2 separate regions of the Homo sapiens genome follow, and region 2 is linked to region 1. The links come from fine-mapping of genetic effects on gene expression. Tissue or cell type: tibial nerve. Region 1 holds a variant in brackets; the other region holds the start of a gene. All regions are shown on one strand. Distances are from middle to middle.

Evidence for each region. PIP is the estimated chance that this variant, and not a neighbour inherited with it, causes the effect.
Region 2: it holds the start of PIGZ, and the variant in region 1 is fine-mapped to the expression of PIGZ in tibial nerve (GTEx, PIP above 0.99).

The regions. Positions count from the first base shown.
Region 1 is chr3:196,616,161-196,624,338 of GRCh38, forward strand. No RefSeq gene overlaps it. Among named protein-coding and RNA genes, the nearest start is that of LINC01063, 12 kb to the right of the region's middle. RefSeq lists an enhancer at 4,054-4,123. The variant A/G (reference allele first, on the strand shown) is at 3,166.
Region 2 is chr3:196,965,297-196,973,474 of GRCh38, forward strand. It overlaps PIGZ (phosphatidylinositol glycan anchor biosynthesis class Z (Gwada blood group)), which reads right to left and starts at 3,537. Exons shown (of 3, transcript NM_025163.4): 1 at 3,391-3,537. LOC124906255 (collagen alpha-1(I) chain-like) reads left to right here and starts at 3,837. Exons shown (of 3, transcript XM_047449439.1): 1 at 3,837-3,953; 2 at 4,100-4,916; 3 at 5,005-6,515. The coding sequence starts at 3,837. The coding sequence ends at 4,915. RefSeq lists enhancers at 3,114-3,649, 3,650-4,185, 4,186-4,721 and silencers at 3,257-3,706, 3,767-3,976, 3,987-4,046, 4,157-4,216, 4,327-4,646 and 1 more.

The DNA of each region.
Region 1 (8,178 bases):
ATGGCCTCCAGCTCCACCTATGTTGCTGCAAAGGACATAATTTCATTTTTTTTTTTTTTTTGAGACAGAGTCTTACGCTGCCACCTAGACTGAAGTGAAGTGATGCGATCTCAACTCACTGCAACCTCCGTCTCCCTGGTTCAAGCGATTCTCCTGCCTCAGCCTCCTGAGTAGCTGGGATTACAGGTGCGCGCCACCATGCCCGGCTAATTTTTGTATTTTCAGGTGAGACGGGGTTTCGCCATGTTGGCCAGGCTGGTCTCACACTGCTGGCCTCAAGTGGTCCACCTGCCTCAGGCTCCTAAAGTGCTGGGATTACAGACGTGAGCCACCGCGCCCGGCCACATTTCGTTCATTTTTATGGCTGCAGTTACAGTGTTCTAGCTGGTTCTTCTGTGTCCTTTATTTCCTATAAATGATCAATGAGATGTTAACATTTGATTTAATTCAAGTTAGACACTTTTAGCAAGGATATATCCTAAGTGCTGCTGGGTGCTTCGTGCGCACCATGGTGGAAGACATATTCTGGTTGTTCTCCCATCAGTGATGCTAATATTAACCCCTGCATTAGTGCTAACAGTGTGACCCTCTGATTGTGACCCCTTGATTGTGACCCCTTTATTGTGACTCCTTTATTGTGTTTCTTTTCCTCTCTTGTGACCAAAGAGAAGTCTGCATGGTTGCTGTTGCATCACACAAATGTCAGGTGATGTTTATTTTATTTTATTTATTTTTTTTGAGACGGAGTTTTGCTCTTGTTGCCCGGGCTGGAGTGCAGTGGCGCAATCTCGGCTCACTGCAACCTCCGCCTCCTTGGTTCAAGCAATTCTCCTGCCTAAGCCTCCCAAGTAGCTGGGATGACAGGCATGCACCACCACGCCTGGCTAATTTTTTTTTTTTTTTTTTTTTTTGGATTTTTAGTAGAGATGGGGTTTCTCCATGTTGGTCAGGCTGGTCTCGAACTCCCAACCTCAAGTGATCTGCCTGCCTCGGCCTCCCAAAGTGCTGGAATTACAGGCGTGAGTCACCGCACTCAGCCAAGTGATGTTTATTTAAAAGTCACAATTGGTCAGAAAAAGAAAAGGCAGATATGTTAGGATTCTCAAGGACATATATACAGAGAAAGAGATATTTTTAAGGAATTGGTTCACATAGATTATGGAGGTGGGCTAGTCCAAAATCTGCAGCGTGAGCTAGCAGGCTGGAGAACTTCCTCTTCCTCCAGGGAGCAGTCTTTTTGTTTCAGGCCTTCAGCAGACTGGATGAGGCCCACTCGCATTATGGAGGGTAATCTGCTTTGCTTAAAGTCCACTGATTTAAATGTTAATCTTATCCAAAAATATCCTCACAAAGACATCCGGAATAATGTTTAACCACATACTGCTCTGAAAAGTCAATGGGTTCATTTTTTTTCTATTAAAAAACCCCACCACATATCTCGGCATTGTGGCCCAGCTAAGCTGACATGTAAAATTAAGATATCACAGCAGCGCTGAGAGATGGAGCTTCCGTCTCTGCTACTGTGTTCTGTTCTTGTGTAAATAATGTAACACTTAGGGCCTCAGTTTTCCTCTCTGTAAAACAAAGGGTTTGGACTAAAAGATCTCTAAGTTCCCTTCCAGCTTTAAAGTTCTTTTAAAAATTGTGGTAGGACAGGCATAGTGGCTCGCGCCTGTAATCCCAGCAATTTGGGAGGCCGAGGCGGGCAGATTGCTCGAGGTCAGGAGTTCGAGACCAGCCTGGCCAATATCGTAAAACCCCCATCTCTACTAAAAACAAAAATTAGCCGGGTGTGGTGGTGGGCACCTGTAATCCCAGCTACTCAGGAGGCCGAAGCAGGAGAATTGCTTGAACCCGGGAGGCGGAGGTTGCAGTGAGCCGAGATCGCGCCATTGCACTGCAGCCTGGGCGATAAGAGTGAAACTCTGTCTCAAAAAAAAAAAAAAATCGTGGTAAAATACATGTAACAAAAAATTACCATCTTAACCATTTGTAACAGTACAGTTCAACAGTGTTAAGTGTATCCCCACTGTTGTTCAATCTCCAGGAGTGTTTCATCTTTCAGAATGAACTCTCCATACACTAAACATTTATTTCTCCCTCTCCACAGCCCCTGGATGCTTTCAATGCTTGTGGGTATATTCCCATAAGCAGAATTGCTGGGTTCTGTGGTAATTCTTATTATAAGGTTTTAGGGAGCTATCACACTGTTTTCTATACTGGCAGCACCATTTTATATTCCCACCAGTAGTGCACAGGACTTCCAGGTTCTCTACATCTTTTCTAACACTTGTTGCTTTCAGGTTTGTGTGTATGTTTTTTTGTTTTTGTTTTTGTTTTGTTTTTGTTTGTTTTGGTTTTTTTTTTTTTTGAGACGGAGTCTCCCTTTATCACCAGGCTGGAGTGCAGTGGTGTGATCTTGGCTCACTGCAACCTCCGCCTCCCGGGTTCAAGTGATCCTCCTGCCTCAGCCTCCTGAGTAGCTGGGATTACAGGTGCCAGCCACCACGCCCGGCTAATTTTTGTATTTTTAGCAGAGACGGGGTTTCACCATGTTGGCCAGGATGGTCTCCATCTCTTGACCTCGTGATCCACCCGCCTTGGCCTCCCAAAGTGCTGGGGTTACAGGCATGAGCCACTGCGCCAAGCCTTGTGTGTGTGTTTTATAGCAGCCATCCTCATAGGTATAAGGTGATATCTCATTAAGATTTTGATTTGCATTTTCCTAATGATTAGTGCTGTTGAGCATCTTTTCGTAGGTTTGTTAGTCATTTGTTTATCTTTTTTGAAGAATTGTCTACTTAAGCCCTTTGCCCATTTTTAAATGAGGTTGTTTTTGTTGTTGTTGAGTTATAAAAGTTCTTTATATATTCTGGATATTAACTCCTTATCAGATGTGTGATTCACAAATGTTTTCTCCCGTCTCATGGTTTGTCTTATCCCTCTGTTGATTGCGTCCTTTAATGCACATAAACTTCTTTAAGCCTGTGAAATTTGGGGTTGCAACTCTTCCTCCCATCTGTGGCCCATGGCTGCAGGCTGAGGACCTTAACCTCTCTGTCCTAAATGAGTGGTATGCCTGCCCTCCTATCTCTTTGATGATACATATTTCAGAATAGAACTCTAAGTTCTTATTGCTGGAATCAACTTTGGAATTCTTGTCCA[A/G]CCTCATTTTACTCATGGACAAACAAGGCCCTTTGTGAGCAACAGAGCTGGATCTAAAGTGTGAGCTTCTCTCTCCTTCCGGCGCTCTCTGCACTGCGATGCAACTCGACAAGTCAGCTGGTCTTTGTAATGAACTCCTCAGGAAACACAAGCAATTACAGGAAAAGACAACCAGGCTATTAAGAGGGAATTTTATTCTATTGAAACTCTGTTATGGGGAAACGTGTGTGTTTGTTATAGGTAATCTATTTACATTTTCAAAAACCTTTTTTTTTTTGGTAATTATTTTATTTTATTTTATTTTTTTATTGATCATTCTTGGGTGTTTCTCGCAGAGGGGGATTTGGCAGGGTCATAGGACAATAGTGGAGGGAAGGTCAGCAAATAAACAAGTGAACAAAGGTCTCTGGTTTTCCTAGGCAGAGGACCCTGGGGCCTTCCGCAGTGTTTGTGTCCCTGGGTACTTGAGATTAGGGAGTGGTGATGACTCTTAACGAGCATGCTGCCTTCAAGCATCTGTTTAACAAAGCACATCTTGCACCGCCCTTAATCCATTTAACCCTGAGTGGACACAGCACATGTTTCAGAGAGCACAGGGTTGGGGGTAAGGTCACCGATCAACAGGATCCCAAGGCAGAAGAATTTTTCTTGGTACAGAACAAAATGAAAAGTCTTTCAAAAACCTTTTTACTTTCTAAAAGCAACTACACATATTCTAGGACTGCAAGTGCTGTTTTCTGGTAAACGGGGAGTTGCTTAGAAACCAGGAATGAGGGATGGAGACCAACGGTCTTCTGTGGATGAAGTATAAACAGTAACTCTTCTAAGGAATCAGTACTAACCTTGGGAAGAAGATGAGCATGATTTTTCTCTGTACAACCTCTACCCCTCTTCTGATGAAAGCACCTGCTTTTCTTTAGGGCCTACTCCATCAACAGGAGCCCATGTCGTTTGGGTGGAGCTTCAGGAATCGGCATATGAGTCAGTCCAGAAAAATAGGCACATCCCACCCGCCAACCACAGTGACTGATTGCGGAAGAGGCACTTGACCCCAGGTCACACAAGGGGGTTCCGTCCTGGGACTTTTGCTGCACTGTTTTGAAAGAGGCCTCTTTCCCCCTGGTATTGCTAGACTAGCAGGCCATGGGCCCGAAACTGCCAGAACGCACCCTTGATGCCACCCGGGTAGAGTCAGGGGAGAGCAGGGCTGAGAGTTGGAGACACAGATTCCTGAAAGCATTGTTTGAGCGCGTGGATCCAGTCTTGCTTTAAATCAGACTTTTTAGTAACATGAACCGATCAATTCCTCTGCTACACCAGTTTGAGTTGGGTTTCTATCACTAGTGATTAAAAGAGTCCTCATTAGTCCAGATTGTACTTTAAGTTGCTTGTATACATTATCTGGAGGAGAGTATAAAAATAATAGGCTATAAATAGTGAGACTAATATTAAGTTATTTTAGGTAATAAAAAGTCAAACTGATGGGAATAGTTCTGTGGGGAAATTGTGTGAAGCTATGTTAACAGTAAGAAAAGTGACTAGGTTTTGGTGTAAGTAAATGCCTGGTCACACATTCGGGAAATAATAATTTAAGTTCTATTTCTAGTATGACACATTGCAAGGCAAAGAATAAGTCATTAAGGGCTCTTTAAGAACATTCAGTGCAAAGATGCTACTGCACATAACATATTAGAAAAGTATAATAGAAGTAAAACAGGTGACAACGTTTAAAAAAACAAACAAACAAAAAAAAACAGGTGGCCAGATGCAGTGGCTCACGCCTGTAATCCCAGCACTTTAGGAGGTCGAGGTGGGCAGATCACTCGAGGTCAGGAGATCAAGACCAGCCTGAGCCAACATGGTGAAACCCCATCTCTACTTAAAAAATAGAAAAAAAAAAATTAGCGGGGGGTGGTGGTGCACGCCTGTAATCCCAGCTACTCGGGAGGCTGAGGCAGGAGAATCACTTGAATCCGGGAGGCGGAGGTTGCAGTGAGCCAAGATCACACCACTGAACTCCAGCCTGGGCGACACAGCAAGGATCTGTCTCAACACAAAACAAAACAAACAAACAAAACCAACAGGTAACATTCATCCCACTGTTGCATAGAATCACAACGGGCCGGATGTATTCCGTCTGAGCTTCCAGATCCACTGTCTACCCTCTCCCACCCTGCTCTCTGCTCAGCAGACCTGTGTCCTTTGTCCTCTAGCTGGGGTCCCTAAACAGGGATCCCCGTCAGGGAGGGGAGAGTGGTCGCGTGTTTGCTCCCCTGGTTTCCTCCTGCAGGGCTTCCTCGGGGAGCTGCTTCCCTAGATCAGGGGTCACAGGGCTTCTCCAGTAGCCTCTCCAGGCGCCTGTGGACTCTCACCTTTTGGGCTCTGATCATTGTTGCCTCCCCCAGACCTAGGGAAGTAACAGCCCTTTGGGGCAAGTCCTGGGCTCCCGCTTTGCCGTGACCACACTGGGTACTAGTCCCTTTATTAAACTCTCCTCAAATTGCCTAACTTGCAGATGGCAACTGTTTCCTATGATATGACATAATATATCATAACGCACGTTCTTTTTTTTTTTTGAGACAGAGTTTTGCTCTGTTGCCCAGGCTGGAGTGCAGTGGCTCAATCTCAGCCGCTCACTGCAACCTCCGCCTCCCGGGTTCAAGCGATTCTCCTGCCTCAGCCTCCCTAGTAGCTGGGATTACAGGCACTCGCCACCATGCCAGGCTAATTTTTGTGTTTTTAGTAGAGATGGGGTTTTGCCATATTGGCCAGGTTGGTCTCAAACTCTTGACCTCAGGTGATTTACCCGCCTTGGCCTCCCAAAGTGCTGGGATTACAGGCGTGAGCCACCGTGCCTGGCCACGCAACGCACATTCTATGTCCACATTTGGAAAATTACCTTTGATTGTGAGTGTTCAGCCTCAAGAAAACAGCAAGGCAGGCAAAGTCTAAAGGAGGGGAAGTGAAGAGATCAAGAGCTGGGAGTGTGAGCTAGAACAGTCATATCGGGACCGATTAAATGTGATGCCTGAACTTATAATCTTCATATGAATAACTGATCGGTTTGATTATAGACTAGAATGTTAGTAAAGGGAGGACATCTTACACCTGGAGATATGCTTTAAATAAATAAAATGGAGTATTACCTCGTGCAGAAGGTTGTACACTCACGAAATTCATTACTCTAAGAGGCAGTACAATTTGAAAGTAAAAATCAATTCCAAAATGCTTTAAATACACAAATGAAGGAGTTTTAAGTCACCCAGGGAAACCTGAATTTTGAGGTTAATATCAAGATGTGAGAGGGGTAAATGGACTAGAGCTGATCTGGAAATTTTTATGTTTAATAATAAATGAAATTTTGAATATAAATAAAACTTAGGTTAGCTTTTCATTTTCCACCTTAGTTGGCCCTTCTGAAAACATTCACCTTATATAATACATTTACCTCTTTCATTTGAATTCTGAACTACTATCTGCTGCCCTCTCAGGACGTTTTAACCTGGAGTCCATGGATTCAAGGGGTCTATGGATAGAATTGTATTTCAATGTAGTCTATTTCTTCTCCTTGAGTATGTATTTCATTTTCTACATTTAAAAACGTGATTCTGAGGAGTCCACAGGAGTTGCCAGAGTACCAGAGGGTTGTGTGGCAAGTCAAGTTTAAGATTCCCTTGTAGGCCAGGTGCGGTGGCTCACACCTGTAATCCCAGCACTTTGGGACGCCGAGGAGGGCGAATCATGAGGTCAGGAGTTCAAGACCAGCCTGGCCAACATGGTGAAACCCTGTCTCTACTAAAAATACAAAAATTAGCCAGGTGTGGTGGCGGGCTCCTGTAATCCCAGCTACTCGGGAGGCTGAGGCAGGAGAACTGCTTGAACCCCGGAGGCGGAGGTTGCAGTGAGCCGAGATCACGCCACTGCACTCCAGCCTGGGTGACAGAGCAAGACTCCATCTTGAAAAAAACAAAGATTCCCTTGTAGACCAAACCAGCTGTCTGGGCTTCCCAGGGGGTAACAGAGAAGGGCACTGCCTTGCTTCACAATTCTTGTAAGGATCCTGGTTACCAGGGCACTTCCCAGCCTTTGGAGAGACGGGGATCTCTCTCCACTTTGGTGTGGATGCAGAAGCACAGAGACTAGAGTTGAGGCAGAAACAAGTAAGAGGCTCTCCCAGCCCAGGGCCTGTTTGGGAAGGAGGAAGCTGAGCTGCCAGGGCCATCTTCCAGGCCCAGTACAGGCGGCACCTCCCTTCCTGATTGCTGCCAACATAGACTCTCTCTGCAGTTCCACTCTCTGATCCCATCCTGCACAACTGGATGCACTTTTGGACCACGCACTGGGACAAAACTGAATTTAAAAATTTAAATTAGGCCAGGCGCAGTGGCTCATGCCTGTCATCCCAGCACTTTGGGAGGCTGAGGTGGGCAGATCACCTGAGGTTGGGAGTTTGAGACCAGCCTGGCCAACCCAGAGAAGCCCCATCTCTACTAAAAATACAAAATTAGCTGGGCATGGTGGTGCATGACTGTAATCCCAGCTACTCAGGAGGCTGAGGCAGGAGAATTGCTTCAACCCGGTAGGTGGAGATTGCAGTGAGCTGAGATCATGCCACTGCACTCTAGCCTGACAAAGAGAAACTTCGTCTCAAAAAAAAAAAAAAATTAAATGAAAAATAATTGATCCTAGTGAAAAAGATTTCAGTGGAATAAAGATAGACAAAAATGGAAATGTTTCAAATGAGTGTCATGGAAAGATGACCAAAGAATTCAACTGACTGTGTGAGTTTGTTCCAGAAAACATGTTCTTTAGAACAAAACGTTCTTTAGTTCCCTACAGGGACTCCTAGTGACCACCGCCATCTCATTAATAAGTGGCTTTGATTCTTGGACTCAGTAAACAAAATGGCTTGAGGCGTGTGGAACTGAGTGTCTTTACTCTTTTGAAAATTGTACTAAATGCTTGTCCCTAAGAGGTTTAGCCCTTAGACAATGCATGGAGGGAAATTATTTG
Region 2 (8,178 bases), 350 kb after region 1:
AGAGAGAGTGTGAGTGGAGGAAATGACGGACGCTTATGGAACCATCAGATCTCATGAGAACTCCCTAACTATCCGAAGAACAGCGTGGGGGAAACCACCCCATGATCCGATCCTCTCCCACCGGGTCTTTCCCTCAACACTTGGGGATTACAATTCAAGATGAGATTGGGGCGGGGACACAAAAGCCTAACCATGTCATACCATTTGCCCAATTTAGTCCAGAATCCCACGGGCTATCTCCCTCCTCCTTTGTCCCTGCACTACGTAATGCCAACGTTGCTTGCTAATTATTCCTTGAACCCAGCTCTTGTTCCTCATTCTCCACTGTCATTGTCTGAGTCCAGGTATGCTGTGACTGGTGTGCATGTACCTGGGATTTCTTAGCCTTAGGGGTGGCTGGCTGTGCAGAATCTTTGGATGGCTGGAGGCCCTGGGTTGGTTGTTTCTGTTTGCAAACAGCCCCCTCCTTTGTTAACCAGTGTGTCATATAACAGCAATCATTTTCTGTGGATGAATAATGAGGGAGATGGTAAGAAGCATGACCTGGAGTAGACTGCACCGCCATCCGCCTCTCCACTTTCCCTCTCTCACTGCATCCTTCCTTCTGACTGCGGCAGAGACAGGCCGAATCACTCCCCTGTGAGAAACCTCTGGATGGGGGGCCATCCCCTCACCACCCTGAGGACCAGGTCCACATTCCTTACTGTGGCTGACAAGGCCCTCCATAGCTTCCAGTGTCCCCTTCCCGCCTCCACTCCTGTGTTCGTGAGTAGAATTCGGTGCTCCAGAAACATCACGCCTTTCTGCAGCCCTCTCCTCTATTCCGTGCTGTTTCTCACCCCAGCTTCTTGGCTCACACGGTTTCACTTACCCAATACGCTAATAACATGGAGGTTAAGACCAGCGGTGGCATCAGGTAACCCGGTTCAAGTCGTTGCTCTCTGTCACTTGTTCATGGTGAAAGCACTCAATCTCTCTGAACCCCAATTTATACCTCAGCTTTAAAACAAGTACCTATCTCAGGGCTGTTGTGAAGATGAAATGAAGAAAATATGCAGACATAAGTGGTTGCTTTCTTTATCCATCTTGCTTAACTGCCCTAACCCCCAAGAAGTCTTCCCTAACCCTCCTTCTGAAGGACCCTGTGCAAAACTCTGCAGGCGCCATGCGCTGACTGTTGTCTGATTATTTCTCTGCCCTGCTTGGCTGAGGTCTCCCAGGCATGGAGTCCCTTTGAGATTCATCTCCAGCCTGGGTGGGCCCACTGGGGCCCATCTGTCAAGGACAGAGCAGGAGGTCCTCCGGAGAAGGTGACAACGTAGTGGGGCATCGACCATAACAAATGCGGGAGCTCCAGGGAACGACCCCCGCCCGCTGGCGTCTCTCCAGTCTGAGACCCCACTGGAGGAGCTGTCCATGTGGCTGCCTCTCGCCTTTTATCCCAGGGGACAGAGCCAACGCCAAGCATGGCAACCACCCACCTTAACCTAATCAGGATGCAGCCTGCTCATTAATTCATTCATTCATTCAGAGGGATCTGTCCGGGTGCGGGTCCAGCACGGGTCCAAATCCTGCATCTCCAGTAGCCTCCTGGGGGTCGGTCGTCGGGAGGGCTCGTGAGCGGAAGGCTTTAGGATGAAGCGACAGGGCCCAGAGTCGTGGAGATTGGACTGGGGGGCAGGGGAGCAGGCATTGACAACCACGCCGACAGGGGCATCCCGCGCGCCTGTGTGGGAGAATGTGTAGGGCAAGCAGCAGGGAGAGACCATCTCAGAGACAGGGGAACAGCCAAGCAGAAACCACTGTGCTGGGCGCGGGGGGAGGCCGGGAAAGACAGCACATCTGCGGGGCGGGAGGAGGGGAGGGAAGGGAGTAGAAACACTGCTCCCGCCAGCCGCGGGTGATGGGGACACGTGTCCAGCTCGCTGAGTCCGAGGGCCTGGGCCCGCTTTGGGTGCCCTGTTTCTCCGGCGCCCAGGTGTGTGCGCAGAACCGTGTCTGCTCCAGGGACAGCCGTGAACGAGCGCCGTCCGGAGTGGCAGGGCCATCAGGTGTGGCTCATTCCAAGAAAGGTCCGTACCTTCACATGTAAACTTCCTGGCAAAGCTGCTGGGTTGCCGCTTATGGGAGAAGGCGGCGGGCCCAAGGTTCGGCCCCTTTGTCTGAATCTGGCATTTGGAGCAGGCTTTAAGACTTCGGGAAAAGCCGGGCCCCTGTGCAACCACCAAAGGCTGCTTCTCCCGCCCTCAGGACTAAGATCTTGTTCCAGTCCTCCAGTCCTCGGGGTCTACTCCAGGGGTACAAGGTGAGAGTGGCTCTCCAGAGTCCATTTGCCTTTTGGTGCCGCACTGCATCCTCACTTTGACCCTGAGCGCTGCAGTAAGCCCTGCAGGGTGCTCCACCTTGAAGCACGGGAAGATCTGATGCTGGCCGCCTTCTTCCTTCGGTTGCCTGAAAGGGCCCGTGTTTATCCTTCGCTTCACAGAGAACGCAACACACAACATTAAACACACATAGAGAGTGAAAGAGAACAAGGCATCTTCATCAAGGAGGGCGCACCATTTAACCACCCGCGACCTTGCAGTGCGCCTCTGCAAAGTGGGGACTCCGCTCTGTAGCAGGAGATGGGGGTGTTGACGATTTTGAAAGTAGTTCTCAGTTTTCCGAGGCAAAGGTGTCTGGGGCTGACGAATGACTTTTGAGAAGAAGGAATGATGAGAAATGTCCTCATTACAGAACTTTCCCGGCCACACTGTGAGTCCCACGCAAAGACCCCATGACCACCAACCGGAGCGCTGGGTGCTCCCTGGCAGGGTCACCTTTGCTTTTTGCGCGCCCCCATGCCACCCCTGGGGCAGGAGGCCATCCTCTTATCCTGGGAGTGCAGGCCTGGCCCGAAGTGCAGCCCCCGAGGCCGGGAGCCGAGATTCTTCTCGGCTTCGTGCTCAGAGCTTTGCAGCGTGGCATGGTTTCCTCCTCTTGCCCTGTTGCTGTTTCATACCAGGGGGAACTGAGACCCAGTCGGGTTATGGGCCTCCCTGAGAACACTGGCCTCTAGCAGAAGCAGATTCAACCCCAGGCCTCAACCTGCGCCCAGACCCGTGCCCTGGAGTGGAGTTTACCCACTGCCGCCCTTCCTGGGCAAATGTCACCGCTGCCTCCGTCCCCCTAGGTCCGGGGCGGGTCAGTGCTTCGAGCCAGCGGACCCCGGCCTAGGGACAGGTGCCTGCGAGAATGCGGGGGGCGGCCCCCAGCTCCCCTGCCCTCCTCCCTAGAGGCTGGGCCTGCTGGTCTCCCGGCTGCGCGCAAGGTGGGAACGCGGCCGACTTGGTCCGCTCGCCCTCCCCGCACCCGCTCCTCTGGAGCCGCTGGGGCTGCGCACCGACTCACCCGCGCGGCCTCCGGGCTGCGCCTTCAGCGCTGGCGGCGTCCTGCCCGGCGAGGGCCAGGGTCCCAGGAGGCCCCGGAGGCGGCGGGACCGCAGGGCGGAGGGGAGGCCGTGGGAGCGGCCGGGCGCGCCTCAGCAGCGCGGAGACTGGGGCCGCCGCCGCCGGCGCAGGGCGGGCCGGGAGGGAGGAGGAGCGCGCGGGCGGGGCCGCCGTGTACGTCCCCGCGCTCCCGCCCGGCCTGGCCCCGCGGTCCCGGAGCGAGCTGGGGCCGCGCTGGGGAGGGTCCTGGGGGCGCCGCCGTCCCTCGGGCCGGGCAACGCCGGGCGGGGACCGGTCTCGCCCCGCCGCGCTCGGGCTCCCTCCCCGGCGGCCCCTCCTCGGCGAACAGCCTTTCGGCGCGGGGGGCTGTTAAACCAGACACCCCAGGCCACACTCCTCTCGTTCGAAATGACCATTTCGGGGTTCTCCGTGGCGGGGAGCTCCGCCGCCGCCGTCCCCCTTCCACGCGCGGGAGGTCGGCGAGGGCAGGGCGGGGACCCGGAGTGCGGCCCCCGGTCCTGCTTCGTGGCCCGAAACGCCTCGCAATGGAGTCACTCATGACAGGGGACTCAGCGCACGGGGCGGCTGCTGAGCCCCGCAGCGATCGGCGGGCGTGAGGGGTTCCCCGGCGTGGTTGCCCGGGAGCCTGTCAGCCCCAGCAGCCCTGACAGGAAAGGGAAGTCGAGAGGAGGCTGAGCGAACGGCCGCCACCCCCGCGGGACGCTGACCCGGGCGGACCCCGAGGGGCCTCTCCCCGCGCCAGAGCGCGGCGTGCGCGGGGAAGCGCGACCCACCGGGGTCGGCGACGGCGCGCGGGGCGGGCGCGGCGGTTCCCTCTCCTCCGCCCGTGCCCGTGGGATCGGCGGGCTTGTCGGGCTGGGAGAGCCTCGTGGAACCCGGGCATCCGGGCAGCAGCGGCCTCCGAGCCACTGTGGAGGCGCCCGGGGTCGGCACGGCGAGGCCGACGGGGACCTGACACGGTCACGCGGCGCCGGGGAGCAGGTTCGAGTGGCCGGGCGTGGCCGTGCTGCCCCTCCGCGTTCCGCAGGCGGCGACGGGCGAGCGGCCCTAGCGGGCTGCAGGGAGGACGCCGCGTGGACGGAGAGCCGGCGCCCGGGGGCCAGATCCCCTCCCGGGACGGGGCGCCAGGTCCCCGCGAGCTGCGGCGCGACGCGCGGGCACCCGTGTCCCACCCGGTGGCCTCGCCGCTGCGGGCTGCGCTGAGAGCGGGGTGGCGCGACGCGGTCCCTCACCGCAGGGGGAAGACGGCACCACCGCGTCCCGGCCGCTGGAGCTTCCCGCCCGCGCCGCCGGCCCGACGCTGCCCCCTGGCGGGAGAGCGCTGCAGGGGCCCCGGCGAGGCCGCAGGACCCGACCTCCCCGCCGGCCTCGCACTCCCGCGCCGCCGCCGAGGGTCGGCAGCCGGATCGCCCTCCGTGCCCCATAGCACCCCTCACACTAAAAACGACGACTTTATTAAGATGTGAGGTATTCTATACATACGATAAATACCAGGAAATTTAAGTACAGTACATGGAAGTATACAGTTCCATGAATTTTTTCCTTTATTTTTTAGATACAGGGTCTCTGTCGCCCAGGCTGGAGTGCGGTGGCACGATCTCGGCTCACCGCAGCCTTGAACTTCTAGGCTCCAGCGATCCTCCTGCCTCAGCCTCCCGAGCAGCTGGGACCACAGGCCCCGCCACCATGCCCGGCTCAGTTCCATGACTTCTGACACGCGAAACCACCAGGCTAGTCTCCCCCCGAGTTCAAGAAGTCCTCTCCTCCCAAAAGTACCCTCCTGCCCCTCTGCAGCTAACCCCTCACCTCCCCTCCGCCCTGGTTCCAGACAACTGCTCCTCTGATTTCTGTCACTGCCCTTTGCCTCTCTCGCAATTGCATGCAAGGAGAACCATTCACCGTGTGGTCTTTTGTGCCTGGCTTTCTTCGCTTGGCACCATGCAGCTGAGCGTCGCCCGTGTGGCGTGTGTGTGTTGTATTTTCCTCTACCTTGGTCTTGAGACCTCCCTGGAGAGCCACTGTAAAGGCCAACTCTGCCCTGACAGGGCTCCTGGGATTTGGGCGTGGGTGTTTGCCGTGGGCCTTTCATGGGGCACCTCTGTATCCTGGCTGACCTGTGACCGGGTGTCCCTCTCCCAGGAGACATATTTATCCTGGCAGATCTCCTTGTGCTTCTTGTCTGACCTGTATCTAGTTTATTCCTACCAAGATAGCTGCTCTCTAGGGAAAGCCCTGACCAGGGAAAACGTTACGTTTGAGCGTCTCAGTCAGGCATGACACAGAGCAGGCAACACAACGAAACACAGGAACTAACAGAAGTGGTCCTATTACTTACAGATCCACAGGGGAAGAGGGCACACTGAGGGCCGTCGGGAATGTCTTGGGGACACTGTACACAATCGTTGTGGGGGTGGGGGGAGCCAGAGAGAGACGGACCTGTGGGCTGAGGCTTTTATTGGAGTGCAGGGCATTACTCAAGCAGTTTTCCCAAGGGGAGCTCTAATTGGTTCACCTAGAGGAGCGAACTGGAGTCCTGTGGGGCCACCTTGTGACTTAGGGGTGGTCACTGAGACATATCTGCATAGTCCATGCAGGGTGTGGGCGTCAGTGGGGTGAGTCTAGTTGGTTGTATGTATACATCCCACAAGGAGGCAGTTACCAGGAGGTGGCTACCTAGGACCAGATATCTGGACGGAATGTGTTGAGATACTGTTTCCAGCAGAGAGCTGGAAACTGTATCCAAGGTGACTAAGCCCTGCTTCTAGTATGAAATTGTTAACCCTATATTCAAAATGGATACTGAAGCAACCTAAAATTTCAGGTATTTACTAAAGTGTGTATCAAGTTCCCTCCTTACCACTGGTGAGTAGTATTCCATTGTATGGATATGCCACAGGCTGTTTGTCCATTTGGACATTGATGGATGGACTAAAGTTGGCCAAGCTGGGCTGGTGGGGAGGCACCCTCTCAGGACCCCAAAGGAGGATGCGGGGTTGTTGTTGGATGTCTGGGTTGTTTCCAGTTTGAAGGCATTGTGAATAAAACTGACTTGAGCCTTCCTAGAAAGTTTTTTGAATATACATATGTTTCATTTCTCTCGGATAAAATGCCTGGAAGTAGGCGGGATGGCTTGGTTGCATGGTGAGTCTTTTTTTAAAAAAATTTATTTAATTAATTAATTAATTAATTTTTTTGAGACGGAGTCTTGCTCTGTAGCCTAGGCTGGAGCGCAGCGGCACCATCTCAGCTCACTGCAAGCTCCGCCTCCCGGGTTCAGGCCATTCTCCTGCCTCAGACTCCCATGTAGCTGGGACTACAGGCGCCTGCTACCAAGCCCGGCTATTTTTTTTGTATTTTTATCAGAGACAGGGTTTCACTGTGTTAGCCAGGATGGTCTCGATCTCCTGACCTCGTGATCCATCCGCCTCGGCCTCCCAAAGTGCTGCGATTACAGGCGTGAGCCACCACACCCAGACTTTTTTTTTTTTTTTTTTTTTTGGGATGGAGTCTCGCTCTGTCGCCCAGGCTGGAGTGCAGTGGTGCAATCTTGGCTCACTGCAACCTCCGTCTCCTGGGTTCAAGTGATTCTCCTGCCTCAGTCTCCTGAGTAGCTGGGATTACAGGCTTGCGCCACCACACCCAACTAATTTTTGTATTTTGGGAGAGATGGGGTTTCACCATGTTGGTCAGGCTGGTCTTGAACTCCTAACCTTGTGATCCATCCGCCTTGGCCTCCCAAAGTGCTGGGATTACAGGTTTGAGCCACTGCGCCTGGCAGCATGGTAAGAAATTGTTTTTCAAAGTGGTCATACTATTTGACATTACCACCAGCAATGCATGAGAGCCCATAGCATTCTATGGTTTGTCTTTTCATTTTCTTTTTTTCCATGAGACAGGGTCTCATGCTGTCTCCCAGGCTGCAGTGCAGTGGTATAATTGTAGCTAAATGCAATCTCGAACTCCTGGGCTCAAGTGATCCTCCCACCTCAGCCTTCTGAGTAGCTGGGATGATAGGCACACGCCACTATGCCTGGCTAATTATTTTTATTTCAATTTTTTATCTTTAGTAGAGATGAGATCTCGCTATGTTGCCCAGGCTGGTCTTGAACTCCTGGGCTCAAGTGATCCTACTGCCTCAGCTTCCCAAAATGCTGGGAATACAGGTGTGAGCCACCACACCCACCTGTTTTTTCATTTTCCTAATGTTATCTTTCAAAGAGCCAAAGTTTCTAATTGTGACAGCGTCCAATTTATTAAACATTTTCCTTGATTGCCTACCTTAAGGTAAGGTTGCAAATATTTTCTCCTATATTTTCTTCTAGAATTGTATAGTTTTGGCTTTTTGTTTAGGTCTATGATACACTCAAACTAACTTTATGGGTGGTGTGAGGTAAGAATCAAGGGTCTTATTTATTTATTTATTTATTTATTTATTTAAGATGGAGTCTCATTGTCTCCCTCTCCCTCGCCCTCGCCCTCGCCCTCGCCCTCGCCCTCTCCCTCTCCCCACGGTCTCCCTCTGATGCCGAGCTGAAGCTGGACGGTACTGCTGCCTGATTCTCCTGCCTCAGCCTGCCGAGTGCCTGCGATTGCAGGTGCGCGCCGCCACGCCTGACTGGTTTTCGTATTTTTTTGGTGGAGACGGGGTTTCGCTGTGTTGGCCGGGCTGGTCTCCAGCCCCTAACCGCGAGTGATCCGCCAGCCTCGGCCTCCCGAGGTGCCGGGATTG